4 linked regions of the Homo sapiens genome follow. The protein of the gene in region 2 purifies or fractionates together with the protein of the main gene of each other region. This does not show direct contact. Each region holds a gene or a part of one and is shown on either strand. Other genes may lie near its edges.

Evidence for each region. Proteins that work in one complex are often made in the same cells at the same time.
Region 1: the proteins of EYA3 (region 2) and STX17 purify together in Homo sapiens (affinity purification with mass spectrometry, with the first as the bait; one large-scale study listed by BioGRID). This does not show direct contact.
Region 3: the proteins of EYA3 (region 2) and WRNIP1 purify together in Homo sapiens (affinity purification with mass spectrometry, with the first as the bait; one large-scale study listed by BioGRID). This does not show direct contact.
Region 4: the proteins of EYA3 (region 2) and DIS3L purify together in Homo sapiens (affinity purification with mass spectrometry, with the first as the bait; one large-scale study listed by BioGRID). This does not show direct contact.

What each region holds. Positions count from the first base shown.
Region 1 is NC_000009.12:99,965,654-99,969,153, forward strand, and holds part of STX17 (syntaxin-17), read left to right. Parts: intron 1-1,999; coding exon 2,000-2,086; intron 2,087-2,780; coding exon 2,781-3,020; 3' UTR 3,021-3,500. UniProt on the Homo sapiens protein: SNAREs, soluble N-ethylmaleimide-sensitive factor-attachment protein receptors, are essential proteins for fusion of cellular membranes.
Region 2 is NC_000001.11:27,991,111-27,994,610, reverse strand, and holds part of EYA3 (protein phosphatase EYA3), read left to right. Parts: intron 1-1,050; coding exon 1,051-1,211; intron 1,212-3,500. UniProt on the Homo sapiens protein: Tyrosine phosphatase that specifically dephosphorylates 'Tyr-142' of histone H2AX (H2AXY142ph). 'Tyr-142' phosphorylation of histone H2AX plays a central role in DNA repair and acts as a mark that distinguishes between apoptotic and repair responses to genotoxic stress.
Region 3 is NC_000006.12:2,768,393-2,771,892, forward strand, and holds part of WRNIP1 (ATPase WRNIP1), read left to right. Parts: intron 1-298; coding exon 299-490; intron 491-1,665; coding exon of another isoform or gene 1,666-1,721; exon of another isoform or gene 1,722-1,727; coding exon 1,728-1,969; exon of another isoform or gene 1,970-1,984; intron 1,985-3,500. UniProt on the Homo sapiens protein: Functions as a modulator of initiation or reinitiation events during DNA polymerase delta-mediated DNA synthesis. In the presence of ATP, stimulation of DNA polymerase delta-mediated DNA synthesis is decreased.
Region 4 is NC_000015.10:66,317,568-66,321,067, reverse strand, and holds part of DIS3L (DIS3-like exonuclease 1), read right to left. Parts: intron 2,620-3,500; coding exon 2,450-2,619; intron 498-2,449; coding exon 336-497; intron 1-335. UniProt on the Homo sapiens protein: Catalytic component of the RNA exosome complex which has 3'->5' exoribonuclease activity and participates in a multitude of cellular RNA processing and degradation events.

The sequences.
Region 1 (3,500 bases), on a different chromosome or scaffold from region 2:
GAAAGCTGACTTAAATAAGTTTTGCTATTGAGGAAAATAAAAATTGAATGATTGAATGAATGCTAAAAGATACCTGAAGTTTTAGTGTCCTAGAATTTTCAAGCACCGAAAGAAAAAGTTAAATATATTTTTTGATAGAGAGATGAGAGTTAACACTTCCTTGGGGAAATTAGGATAAATTTTTCTATTTTTCCCCCCTCACACTTTGCAAACACATTTTATCCCCACTTCAACTCTATGAAGGTATAAGTATCACTATTCTTACTTGATAAATGAGAATACCAACACCTAGAGAGCTTGAGTAATTTGTCTAAGAGCACATAGTGGCGTTTGCTGAGATTTGAACACAGATTATCTGACTAAAGGTGGTGCCCTTGATCTGAGCACATATAATAGTGGTTCTTAAAGTGTGAGAATTGTGGACTGGCAGCATCAGCATCACCTGGGAGCTTACTAGCTCAGGCTTCATCCCAGGCCTACTGGATCAGAAACTCCGGGGATTAGGCCCAGCAATCTGTGTTTTAAGAAGCCTCCAGGTGGAAGACTGAGAACCATTGTTAAAGTTGTCTCTCACAGAGACATTCAAAGGAAAACTGATAAGGGACTTTCTTAGGCATTGTTTTAGAGATGTCAAGATAGTGGTGGAGAATATTGGAATGAAGGGATACCACAATGGCGAAGATAGACATATTTTGTGTATGAGAAGGGAAGTAATATCAGTAATGCTAAGAGGAAACAAACATGGGGAAAAAGTAGCTGTGTGGTTTGGGCTTCATGTTTTCAAATGAAATAATGGTTGGAATTAGAAAAGTGTTGTATGTGTCTGCCTCAATATAAATGAATAGGCCAATTATATAAGGGCAATCAAACACTTCAGGATTAAAGTTGAATTATTTCACCCTCATTGCAGGTGGCATCTATCTAGGATCAAAGAGAGATTCTCTTTTTTCTGCACATTAAAAAAACAAAACCAAAATAGTCTGTAAACTGTGATGGTTGATTATATGTTGGCTTATACATTTGTTGTTTATACATTTGTGATAGTTGGTTTATACATTTGCTAAATTTCATCATACTATACCATTAAAAGCAGTACTTGTTATATGTAAATTCTATCTAAATAAAGTTGAATTAAAAATGGGAATGTGTTCCTACAGCAAGTAATGAGTTCGTGTCACTGGAGGTATCTGAGCAGAGGTTCAGTAACCACTTGTCAGGAATGTTACAGTAGGGCTTCGCACATCAGAGAGGAGATTGACCTGATGACCTCAACATTCCTTCTACCCAGAGATTCCATGAGTCACAGTTGCTGTTGTGCCAGCACAGGTGTTGCCATTTTATGTAGAATGCTTTATTAATATATTTGATCTGAAACATTTTAAACTGTCATGATTTTAAAATGTATTAAGATACACAGGTGTAAAGCACAGAACAGTGATTTCATTCACTGTTCCCTACTGCATATTACAAATGGAAAGATCTCATAATAGATCAAACCGTATTGTAGTCTTGTTCCTGAAACATAACAATTTGTATTTATTGGACCAAGGGCATTTTACTCCTAAGGTAAATGTGCCTGATTTAAACTGAATCCTCAAAGAAGGTAAGTTAGGGAGGTATTTTGGGGTTTGATTTTGTTGGGTTTTTTTTTTCCATCAAACCCAACATGACATGTAAATGCTTATTTGGATTTTTTTTTTCTGGAAAGTAGATTCATTTGGAGAATAATATGTTTGTATGTTTGAGTGAATTTTAGCGTGAGATGCTTTTTGCTGTAAAGTTGCCACCCTTTTATTACCTAATAATTAAGACCCCCCCCTTTTTTTTATGAAAGTTAATTTGTCCTTTCGACATGGCTTATCAGATGCTATTAATGAACCACTATTAAGATGGCAAGGCTGCAGTACCCAGGGCCCTGATTACAGGAATTAAAATAGTGTGTGTTGGCTCCCTGCTGCTCCCCAGCAGGACCGCTCACTCATAATTCCTTTGCATCTAGTCTCAGCAGGAGAAGATTGACAGCATTGCAGACCATGTCAACAGTGCTGCTGTGAATGTTGAAGAGGGAACCAAAAACTTAGGGAAGGTAAGATTCTGCTCCTGCTGACAAATCAATGGTACTCTGGCTCCCAGGAATCTCTAGTATTAACCCAATTGATCTGCTCTCTTCAATGTTGAGGGAACCAGCAATTAAGGAAATAAGGAAGAAATGACACATAGGTAGTGTAAGAAATCAATGTTGTAATATTCTACTCTAAGATTCATTCTATCAGGAGAGGAATTTCTTCAAAGAGAGAATAAACTGTAGCTCTGCTGTAAGGCATTTGGTGTTACCAGGGAATATTTGCAGAGGGTAAAAGTGTAAGTATGTGACAGCACACATGGAGTGGGACCATCTATTTTCCATAGGATGTTGCTTTTAACCCCAGGCACACAGCACTGAATAATTTCTGTGCAACATAAAAGCTTTGGGGGAAATCTGTGGCTGCCGAAACAGTTTAAATAAGCCAGCTAGATAGTTAGTGAATTGATTGTTTTGCAAGTAAAATCAATTTGTAGCAGTCCACTCTTTGTAGCTCAGCTCTCTAAGTTCTGAGATCTGGAGCAATTGCAGTACCTGTGGAATACTTTCTTTTCCCCCCTACAAGTACAGTCTCTAAGGTTAATTATGTACCAAGAGTTAAAGAGGCATTGCCAGGAGTAATGAGAGGAAAACGCACATCACCACAGGCAGATATTCTCAACTCAGTTTCTAAATTGAATTTTTTTTTTTTTTACAGGCTGCAAAATACAAGCTGGCAGCTCTGCCTGTGGCAGGTGCACTCATCGGGGGAATGGTAGGGGGTCCTATTGGCCTCCTTGCAGGCTTCAAAGTGGCAGGAATTGCAGCTGCACTTGGTGGTGGGGTGTTGGGCTTCACAGGTGGAAAATTGATACAAAGAAAGAAACAGAAAATGATGGAGAAGCTCACTTCCAGCTGTCCAGATCTTCCCAGCCAAACTGACAAGAAATGCAGTTAAAAACCAAATTTCAGTATTATTGGTGCCAACATGTCTATCCTGAGGACCTTTGCTGCTGTTGGACACTCCGTCACCTTTTGGAACACAAGTATATCAAGATAGTGGCTACTGATGTTCAAGTGGGATTGAAGTGTGATAAATGGATATATTTTGTTGTTTGCTGGGGTGTTCATGGAGATGTTAAGAGATTGAGGCCCTGGGCTGAGGGTATATAATGTATGTCAGGTAAAGTTTGAAGACTGCCAAGGAGCAGATTTTCTCCCTGGAAATGTGAAAACTGAACCTATAACTCTGATAAGGACTTGAGATGTGTAGAAACGTTGGGTTATGGAAGACTAGTTTCTTCCATAACCCTGAATTGGAGACCTTAATGCTAAGTGTAGATTATTGAGGTTTGTTAGTGAGGAAAAGAATAAGAGTTCAGAAGCCTTTGTTATCAGATAGCGAAATCAGGGCCTAGTGAGGAGCACAGGTCGACTA
Region 2 (3,500 bases):
ATCTCAAGCGATTCTCCTTCCTCAGTCTCCCGAGTAGCTGGGACTACAGGCATGCGCCACCACACCCAGCTAATTTTTGTATTTTTTGTAAAGACAGGGTTTCACCATGTTGGCCGAGGCGGGACCTCAGGAGATCCACCCGCCTCGGCCTCCCAAAGTGCTGGGATTATAGGCATGAGCCACTGCATTCAGCCCCAGAGGTAGTTCTCAATTAGAGTTTCTGGGGTTGAAATCAAGATGTTGGCTAGAGCTCTAATCATCTGAAAGCTTAACTGGAGCTGGAGAATGTGCTTCCAATCTCTGACATGTGGCTGATGACAGAAGGCTTTAGTTCCTCATTACACATACCTCTCCATGGGGCTGCTTGAATGTTCTCACGTGACAGCTGGCTTCTTCCAGAGCAAGTGCTCCAAGAGAGAGCAGAAGAAGCCTAGTCTCTGAAGCCTAACACTATCAGTTTTATCACTTTCTATTTATATTTTAAGTATAGTCCATACCCAAGGGGAGCAGAATTAGAAGAGAGGAATATCAAAGAATTTGTAGATATATTTTGAAGCTACCACAGTGACCTATGAACATAAACCAGCCAGCAGATCACTTAAGGAAATATCTGCCATTATCTTACCATTGTTAGCATTTTAGCCTATTTCCTTTCATTATTTTTTCATGTTTCTCCTTTTTACATAGTTGCAATCACTGTGTGTGTAAGTGTACTCACAAAATTTTATATTCTGCTTTTTTCACTGTGTGGTTATTTTCTGTCATTAGTGAAAAAGATGCCTTATCCCAAGTCAACCTCTAAGGAATGCTGGTGCTTGAATTGTTTCTACCTTTCATTCCCTCTCTCATTTCAGTCCTTTCTTTGATAGAAGTAATAAGTGTGAGATAGAGAACTAATGAAAGATAGACTCTGACATACAGAGATTAAGGAAGAAGATCCTTAAAGCCATTGGCCTTATTTATCAGATACCAAGAACCCAACCAAATAGCACTCAAACAAAAACTTTATGCTGTATAAATTTTAATTTTTATTATCTTCTCTCCTTGCAGCAACTACAGTTTCTCAACAGATGGTTTCAGTGGCTCAGGAGGTAGTGGCAGCCATGGTTCATCTGTGGGTGTTCAGGGAGGTGTGGACTGGATGAGGAAACTAGCTTTCCGCTACCGGAAAGTGAGAGAAATCTATGATAAGCATAAAAGCAACGTGGGTGGTAAGTGTGGCATATAACCAGTCTGATTCTCTGTTTCTTCCTGGTTTCCTCCTTTTCTTTCCAGGGATTCCTTAGATTCCCCATGACAACTGCTTATAAATTATGCCACAGTTATATGTTAAACTCTGTATTTAAAAAAATAGAGGTTTGGTTGAAACCTTTTGGGAGGAAGCTCTATATTTCTAACGGGCTTCTCTAAGCATAATTTTGGAAAGTTCTCTTGTTGTCTTTGGACAAATGCCTTTTTAAAGGAAACATGTTCTGTAGATTATGTTTGATGACATGTATCACAACTGCTGTCAACGCTAGTTAATAGGGTGCCACATTTTTTTTTTTGGCTGGTTTATATAACTATCAGGACAAGTTAAGTAGAACTAGCTAGTAACTTTTCGTGGACAGAAATCTAGGTCCAGGATTGTAGGTTGGTAGTATCAATGTGTTGTGATTTAAAGAATCTTGGAAATTCTTTCTGACCAGAAATATTTCAAATGCCAGATGCCACTAAGCCTAAAATTCTATTATTTAGAATTAATTAATCATAGATTGTTTGAATTAAAAGAGACAGAAGTCTAATCTGAATTCCTCATTTTACAGTTGAGAAAAGTGATGTCCATCATAGGGGTAGTGGGGGCAGCTTATTCATGGTCACATTGCAAATTTGTAACCATACCATGTTTGAAATTCACATTCCCTAACTTTTTGGTCCAGTGCACTTTCATGCAGCTCCTTTTATAGTGAGGTACTCTTTTGAGAAAATATTTAAAACTGTAAACCATCACCATCAAAGATACAAATACATACAAAATGTTGCTCAAAGATTCAGGGATTACATAGCCTGCCTAGAGCAGGGGTCCCCAATTCCCGGGCCTCAGACTGATACCAGTCAGCGGCCTGTTAGCAACCAGGCAGCACAGCCACATAGCAGGAAGTGAGCAGGCCGGCAAGTGAGTATTACTGCCTGAGCTCCACTTCCTGTCAGATCAGTGGCGGCATTAGATTCTCATAGGAGTACAAACCCTATTGTGAACTGCACATGCAAGGGATCTAGTTGCATGTTCCTTATGAAAATCTAACTAATGCCTGATGATCTGAGGTGGAACAATTTCATCTCGAAACCTCTCGCCCCCCACCCAGGTCCATGGAAAAATTGTCCTCTACGAAACTGGTCCCTGGTGCTGAAAAGGTTGAGGACTGCTGGCCTAGAGGTATTTTACTCAAGGTCAAGAGCCCTTGTACTATACTATGCTGCCTTACAATATGGCGCAGAAAGTAGGAACAAGACTTTACAGATCAATTTGGTTCATTTCAGTTACAGCTCTCTAATACCAGATAAAAATCATGGGCTTCCAGACTTCAGGAATCTAATTTACTTTTTTCAGATTCCCCTTTTTGTTGCTTATTTCTTCTCATGATTCAAAGCCAGTATTTTTTATTTTGGTAACTCCACATCTTTTTGCATTTTCTTTCTCACAAACATTAGCCTTTCTTTTGTTAGTTTTCATATACAGCCTGAGTCTCTTTATCTTTTCCCTGCCCAATGCCTGGACCTGGTTTCCTGAACAAAGCGATGTAACCCTGTGTGAGAATCCTCTGAGCCTACTTTGGAGAATAGATTAAAATTAATGGCCAGCTGTATGTTTTGTACAATATGAATTGATGAAAGCGCCACATCATGTATTAGTTGAGTATATCATATATAGGTACTGGTTTTGTTGTCGTTTTGTTTTATCCAAAATGTTAAGAGTCATCTAATTCTAGGCTTACATTGTGGAACCATCAATCTGAAAACAAATTATACTCCAGTTCTCCTCCTCACAAAAATGCCATCTGCTTTTATGGAGTATTACTAATAGAATACAGGATTTTTTTTTAACCTTCACTGTAGAAAATTCAGATCCAGATTTACTGCTTGAATATTTTAACTGAAGTGTCTGAGAGCAGGCTCCCATCATATGAGCTCTCTTTTGTGCTTAGATATCTAGTCTTGGGTAGTGTTTTAGTGTCTTATCAGTTGGAGTTGTTTCAGAAGTACAGTATGGAGAATTAGTCATTCAACCTGGAATTTCATGTCAACATGTTCTGAAGCAAGTGGACAAGTAGTCACCATGGAAGTTCTGTGGAGTAGTGGAAAGACTTCTTAAGACCAAAAGCTGCAAACTTACTGTGTAATCTTAGGGCCCTTTTTTTCATTGGGTTTCGTTTCTTTACAGAGAGATTAGAAATGCTAAGGACTCTTCTAGCTGTAACACTAATTTTTCGCACTTTGGTTCTTGATGTCATGTTCTAAGC
Region 3 (3,500 bases), on a different chromosome or scaffold from region 2:
GGGATTCCAAAGATCTTAAAGAGTCACCCAAAAAGGAATCAAAGGTGGTTAGGGACAGAGGAGAAAAGGTCAGGATTAGCCTAAGGTTTAGCTACTTTCCTGTTTTATTTATAATATTTTTGTTGTTGTTGTTTTTAAATGTCCTGTGGTATTTTTGATTGTTTCTGTGCTGCTCAGCATTCTTCCGAGGTCAAGTTGCTTTTGGTAAATAGTGATGCTGCGTGTGGTGGTTCCCATGGGTGCTGGTCTCTCTGTGTCTTACCAGCTTTTCAAACTCCATGTATGTCATCTTTTCTAGACCACTCTGGCTCACATCATAGCCAGCAACAGCAAGAAACATAGCATAAGGTTTGTGACATTATCTGCAACAAATGCCAAGACAAATGATGTGCGAGATGTCATAAAACAAGCTCAAAATGAAAAGAGCTTTTTCAAAAGGAAAACCATCCTTTTTATTGATGAGATTCATCGGTTCAATAAATCTCAGCAGGTATATTAACTTCCTTCTACCTTTTGGTCGTTGTGAACATCAAACAATATAAAGTGTGTGAGATCACTATACAAACGCTAGAGACTTACGAGCTTTGTTTACAAAGAAGCGTAGGCTTGTGAACCCATCTCCTTCAAGCCTATTTCTCCATACATTTCTTAGTGTTTTTTGATAACAAGAAAATGCTTTCTCTATCTGATAAATGAAATGGTTGGCATATCCCTGAGCTATACGTATCAGAAAAGCACCTTTGAATCAAATTTCCAGTTTTAGGAATTTTTAATCTAAATACTAGGAGTCATTGTGAACAGTAAAATAATGATTTTAAGGTCATTATTTTAATGGGTTTTTAAAAATTACTTTAACAGTATTTTTATTTTGAAAATTAAACAATCGGTATTTTCTGTAACTCCAGGCTCTGTCTTCAAGGTGAATGTTGGAAGAGCTAATGATTACTGTTTATTTAAATGGGTTTCTGAAATAAAAGGACACAAGCTATTTTTATAAACAAAGCCACTTAGGGATTTAAAAAAAAATAAACATTAAAATTTTATTGGGCTGAGATCTGAGAGCTATACTCTAAATAAAAAAAAATTAAATTTTTAGGCATAACTTTAAAAAATTTTTTTTTGTAACTTTTTAATCATACATAGAATATTTCACAAAACTCTACTGAGCCTTTTTTGAACCTTTTTGAATAAAAAGACCCTTTTAAAGTTCTGACGAGGCGTTAGCATTCTAGGTTTCATATTGGACCACTGACTCATCTTAGTATTTTTTCCCCATAAAACAGCATAATAGGAATAATAATAATATGATTGAGTGCTTGCTGTGGAAGAAGATTCTGGAAGTGTTAATGTTTTTGTGTGTTCTTGTCTATAAATAAATAGCTGTTACATATAAGCTATGTGCCAGTTCAGCCTTTGGTAGAAGATGGTTTTCTGAGTAAAGAAATCATTTATGTTGAAACTAAGCTAGAATTCTACTTAAAGCTATTAGTCTACCAGCAAGAGATCAGGCTTGGACGGGCATTCCAGAAGATGTGTTTCAGACTTAAAAGCAAGAGTTGTACTCCCCCAAATATTGCATCTATATTCAGTGAATATAAGGCTGCTGCTATTCCTGAACTCGAAAGATAAAAATGAGGAAAAGGAAGGAAGGGATAGCCAACTTACATAGGATTCTGCAGGTGGCTGTTGACTGGAATCACTTTTTTCTGTTTTCCTCCCATGATTAGGACACTTTCCTTCCTCACGTGGAATGTGGGACGATCACTCTGATTGGGGCAACCACTGAAAACCCTTCCTTCCAGGTCAACGCTGCTCTTCTGAGCCGCTGTCGAGTGATTGTTCTTGAGAAGCTTCCAGTAGAGGCAATGGTGACTATTTTAATGCGAGCGATCAACTCCCTGGGAATCCACGTCCTAGACTCTAGCCGTCCCACTGACCCTCTGAGCCACAGCAGCAACAGCAGCTCAGAGTAAGTTGACAGTGTGCAGCGTCCTGGGGGCACACACCTCCCAGAGAGTCTCCTGGCAGGGGGCCAGAAAGGGCCGGGCGTCAGTGAGGAGAGGGTGGGGACAGAGAAGAAATGTTGATCCGCCCGTAATGAAAATAAAAGAGGAGGGAAATGTTCGATTATACCTAACAAAGTTATCCCTGCACACTTGAAGATGCATTTTCCAGCCTCTAATATGTGTTTCTATAATTCTTCAAGCTTTAACTTTGCTTTGTTGTTTTGGTTCTTGGGTGTTTGCTTTTGTGCTTAGGCTTCTATGGGAAGCCTTATTGATGATTTGAAAGGCTTTATGTCCCTCATTGAATAGAACAAATAGATAGATAAATACTTTCTAGACTTACCATACAACTCTTTTGAGCATTGTACTCATGTTTCAATTTCTTTTTAACCTGCAGTTTAGCATTTTGTTAAAAAAAAAAAATCAAGTAAAAATTAACTTGTAACCTTAAAATTATGTAATCCTTTTTGTGTAGTTGAAACTCAGTTTCATGAAAGTAAAGGAATGTTAACTGAATATGACATTATAGGCTGTCCCTATCCTTTTAGTGACCTATTTCTGCATCATGAGTACCACATGAGCTCGTTAATGCACCAAGTGTATATCATAGATAATTTGATTTCTTGGGTCAGGGGTTTTCCTTTTTTTTAATATTAGAACATATTCTTCAGATGGTATTTGTTCATACGTTGGCTGAAATACTGCCATGGAACATAATCTGGTGTGATGAGAGGCTATTGCCCACCTCCTCCTGCTGTGGACTCTGCAGCTGCTCGTGCCTGCCCTGAGGCCAAGTTCTGGAGCCACTTTTCTGTGAGGATTAAAGTACAAGGCATAGTTTAGGCTCAGGGTTTAGGTTTCACCAGGCTCTCCCTATGTGTCTGGCCCCATTTGCTCCTGTCTGAGATGGAGGGAGAATTCTGCTGTGTCTAATGAAAGCATTGAAACATTTGGCCCGTGGACCACTGGGTAGGACAGAGTGGCCTTGTTTTGGAATACCGTTGTGATGGGGATAGCCATTACATCTGTGGCCACAAGCAGTGTGTGGAACCTGTGGTATCAGCCACATGGACTCATACTCAGAAGTGCTTTATGTGGTGGGCATTTGTCAGAGCCTAAGGGGGCTGCCAGCTCCTCATATGTAGTACAGGTTGAGTATCCCAAATCTGAAATCCAAAATGCTCCCAAATCTAAAGCTTTTTGAGCACCTTCATGATGCTGTGAAAGGAAATGCTTATTGGAGCACTTCAGATTTCTGGATTTTGGGTGCTCATCTGGTAAGTATATAATGCAAATATTCTAAAATCAAAAAAATAGGAAATTCAGACCACTTCTGGTCCCAGGCACTTCAGATGTGGGATACTCATGTGTAGGTTTCCCGTAACAGAATTCTCATTACAGACGCATAGAACCACATGGTAAAGACAAATTGAAAGAAAAGGGGGGAAATCCTAACATGTTTCATGTTTCTGTGTGTTCTTTGCTCTGTGTACT
Region 4 (3,500 bases), on a different chromosome or scaffold from region 2:
AGAGTGTGGAGCTCAGTTGGGTCTGTAACTAGGTGTCCTTGTAGTTGCTGGGGATGGATGTATACTGACTATGAGACACTGACATATCATTTTTAAGCCCAGTTGGAAAATATAAAAATTTGAGAGCTATGAGGCTATAGAAAACTAATTCTACACTTGAAGCTGACTTCAGTTTGGTCCAAATATAGAATAAAGAGGATTGAGATTTTTCCATTATCTGTGCCTTCACACAGTGGGTTGTTCCACAGCACAAAGACTTTTCTTTCTTAATGATGAAACAACAACAAAAGCAAAAAGAAAATGTCACTAGATCAAAGCCTTCTGGAAAATCTGACCTGAGCTTCTGAGAAAGGAATAACTGAAATACTGTTTTCCACCAGGATGGTTGCAATTTCCCCTTCCAGATCTCCGATTCTTCCTAAAACACGCACAAAATGTCCATTTGGATACACAGATGTTGACTCCCAGGAATCGATGCGCACGACCACCCTGAAGTCCTGCACAAAAGGAAAAAATAAAACACAGCTGAGCACCAGGAGTTAAGTGGGTCAATTAGAGGCATCAAACAAACAAGAGGCAAACAATACTGGGTTCCAAGGAGAGTGGCCAGGTGCAAATAGTGGTGTATGGTAGGGTTTTTTTTTTGTTTTTCATTCTTCCTATTACTAAATTGCCAGATGGTATGAAATGCTTGACCCAATGCTTTGAAGGGAGGCATTACCTCTCTACATCAATGAAGAGGGCTGGAAATTTTAGTCTGCTGAAGAGAGCCGTAATATATTCTAGTTAACTGTAATATATTCTAGTTAACGCTTGCAACACTAGGGGAAAACTCAATTATGCATGCTCCAAATTAAGTTTTAAAACAACAATCTTAATGTTTTGTGTGTGGGAGGTAGTTCCTAATTTCTTTGAAGTCTATTTTATTTTATTTTATTTTTTTCGAGATGGAGTCTTGCTCTATCAACCAGGCTGGAATGCAGTGGTGCTATCTTGGCTCACTGCAGCCTATGCCTCCCGGGTTCAAGTGATCCTCCTGCCTCAGCCTCTCACATAGCTAGGATTACAAGCGTGTACCACCATGCCCACCTAATTTTTTTTTTTTTTTTTTTTTTAGTAGAAATGGGGTTTCACCATGTTGGCCAGGCTGGTCTTGAACTCCTAGCCTCAAGTGATCCACCTGCCTCGGCCTCCCAAAGTGTTGGGATTACAGGCATGAGCCACTGCGCCTGGTCTCTTTGAAGACCTCTTAAGATGGTCTTTGGTGGAGAAGAAGGTGTCGTGTAAACTGAATCCCCACTACCCCAAAATTCCAGCAAACCATGGGAATGGAAAATGTATTAGGTGCAACTGGCCTGGAGAGCCTGCATAAGGCTTCAAGATGTAAAAGCACAATGGCTAGGTTACTGGCTGGGGACATCCTGCTTTAGTGTCTCATTTACAAACTGTAAAATATCAGGGGGAATTAAATTGGGCAATGCCCATACTTTTTGACACAAGTAAAGGTTAATTTCTAACCTTCTTGTTTATGTCTTCTCTCCAGTGCTATATTCCTTTATGGATAATCAATTCTGTGAAGTACCACTACATCATCCCTACAGGGCAGAGTGATCGTATTTCTATATTGCTTGCTGGAGGAAAGCTTGTTAGTGTTGGCAAAGTGTATCTATAGAAAGTTTCTATGTTGGACAGCTGGATAATGTATGTTCTCTCTGGTTGTCCTACACAGCTCTTTCTAGGACAATTTCTCTCTGGCCTGAATTTATTAACCACAGACTACTTAATGGATGGTTTTCATATATTTAGAATTTTTAAAAAACAGAATCTTGGGGCTGGGCACAGTGGCTCATGCCTGTGATTCCAGCACTTTGGGGAGCCAAGGCAGGAGGACTGCTTGAGGTCAGGAGTTCAAGACCAGCGTGTGCAACAAAGTGAGACCCCATCTCTACAAAAAAAGAATTAAAAAACATAAAAACACGGCTGGGCATGGTAGCTCACACCTGTAATTCCAACACTTTGGGAGGTGGAGGTGGTGGATCATGAGGTCAGGAGTTTGAGACCAGCCTGGCCAACACAGTGAAACCCCATCTCTACTAAAAATACAAAAATTAGCCGGGCGTGGTGGCGGGAGCCTGTAATCCCAGCTACTCGGGAGGCTGAGGCAGGGGAACTGCTTGAACCCGGGAGGTGGAGGTTGCAATGAGCTGAGATCACGCCACTACACTCCAGCCTGGGTGACAGAGTGAGACTCTGTCTTGGAAAAACAAAAGAACAACAACAAAAAAACCCCAAAAAACACATCCCAGTATCTTGGAATGCCAGATGCCATCAATAATTTATTTCTTTATATGCAAAGGAATTAACAATGCTTTCTGGTACTGCTAAAAAGCTGGTAAAGACAGAAGGAGAAAGCGTAGAGATCCCATAGTAGAGGTAGAATGCCAACTACCTGGAGGGTTTCTGCTTGCTGAGTGCTAATTCGAATTTTGGGAATTCTGTAATCCCAAGGTGTAACCAGGATTTTCTGAGCATTTTTGCCCTGAGATTGGACCTCTTCTTTGGACGGAAATGTCACCACATAATCCCGCCAGTTCTTCTGAAGTATGCCCACCACTCGACCTTTGGCAAAACAAAACAAAACAAGGCATTAACTGGTTAGGTGCCATCTATCTGGACTCTGACCACCTCAAGCAGTAAGGAAAAGAACAAGAAATACAGTGTCCTATTTTTTTTCAAGCACATCCACCCAACTCAAGAATGTTTTTGAAAGGAAGCTTTTATTAACAACAATAACGGCCAGGCATGGTGGCTCATGCCTGTAATCCCAGCACTTTGGGAGGCTGGGGCAGGAGGATCACTTGAGGCCAGGAGTTCAAGACCAGCCTGGCTAACATGGTGAAACCCCACCTCTACTAAAAATACAAAAATTAGCTGGGCATGGTGGCGTGCGCCTGTGATCACAGCTGTTTAGGAGGCTAAGGCAGGAGAATCGCCTGAACCTGGGAGGCGGAACTTGCAGTGAGCCGAGATGCACCACTACACTCCAGCCTGGGCAACAGAGTGAGATGCCGTCTCAATAACAAACACATAAACAAAAACCAAAACACACACATAACAACAACAAGAAAAGGTATGTTTGAAGATTTGCCTTCTTGGTATTTTATTTTAAAGATGGATAATTTAAAAACACTTTTTGTTTTTGTTCGTTTCTTTTTTTTTTTTTTTTAAGAAACAGGATCTCACTATGCTGCCCAGGCTAGAGTGCACTGGCTATTCACAGATACTATCATAATATGTTACAGTCTCAAACTCCTGGGCTCAATCCATCCTCCTGGGTAGCTGGGTCTATAGGCACGTGCCATCATACCCAGCAAAGATGGGTAACTTTTAAAATAACATTGTCAGTATGCTCTCTCTTCCTGAGATAACATTTAGAATCCACTTGTCCCATTTTCTCTCTTTTGCCATTATCTTATCAATCTCATTTTGGTATATTGGGA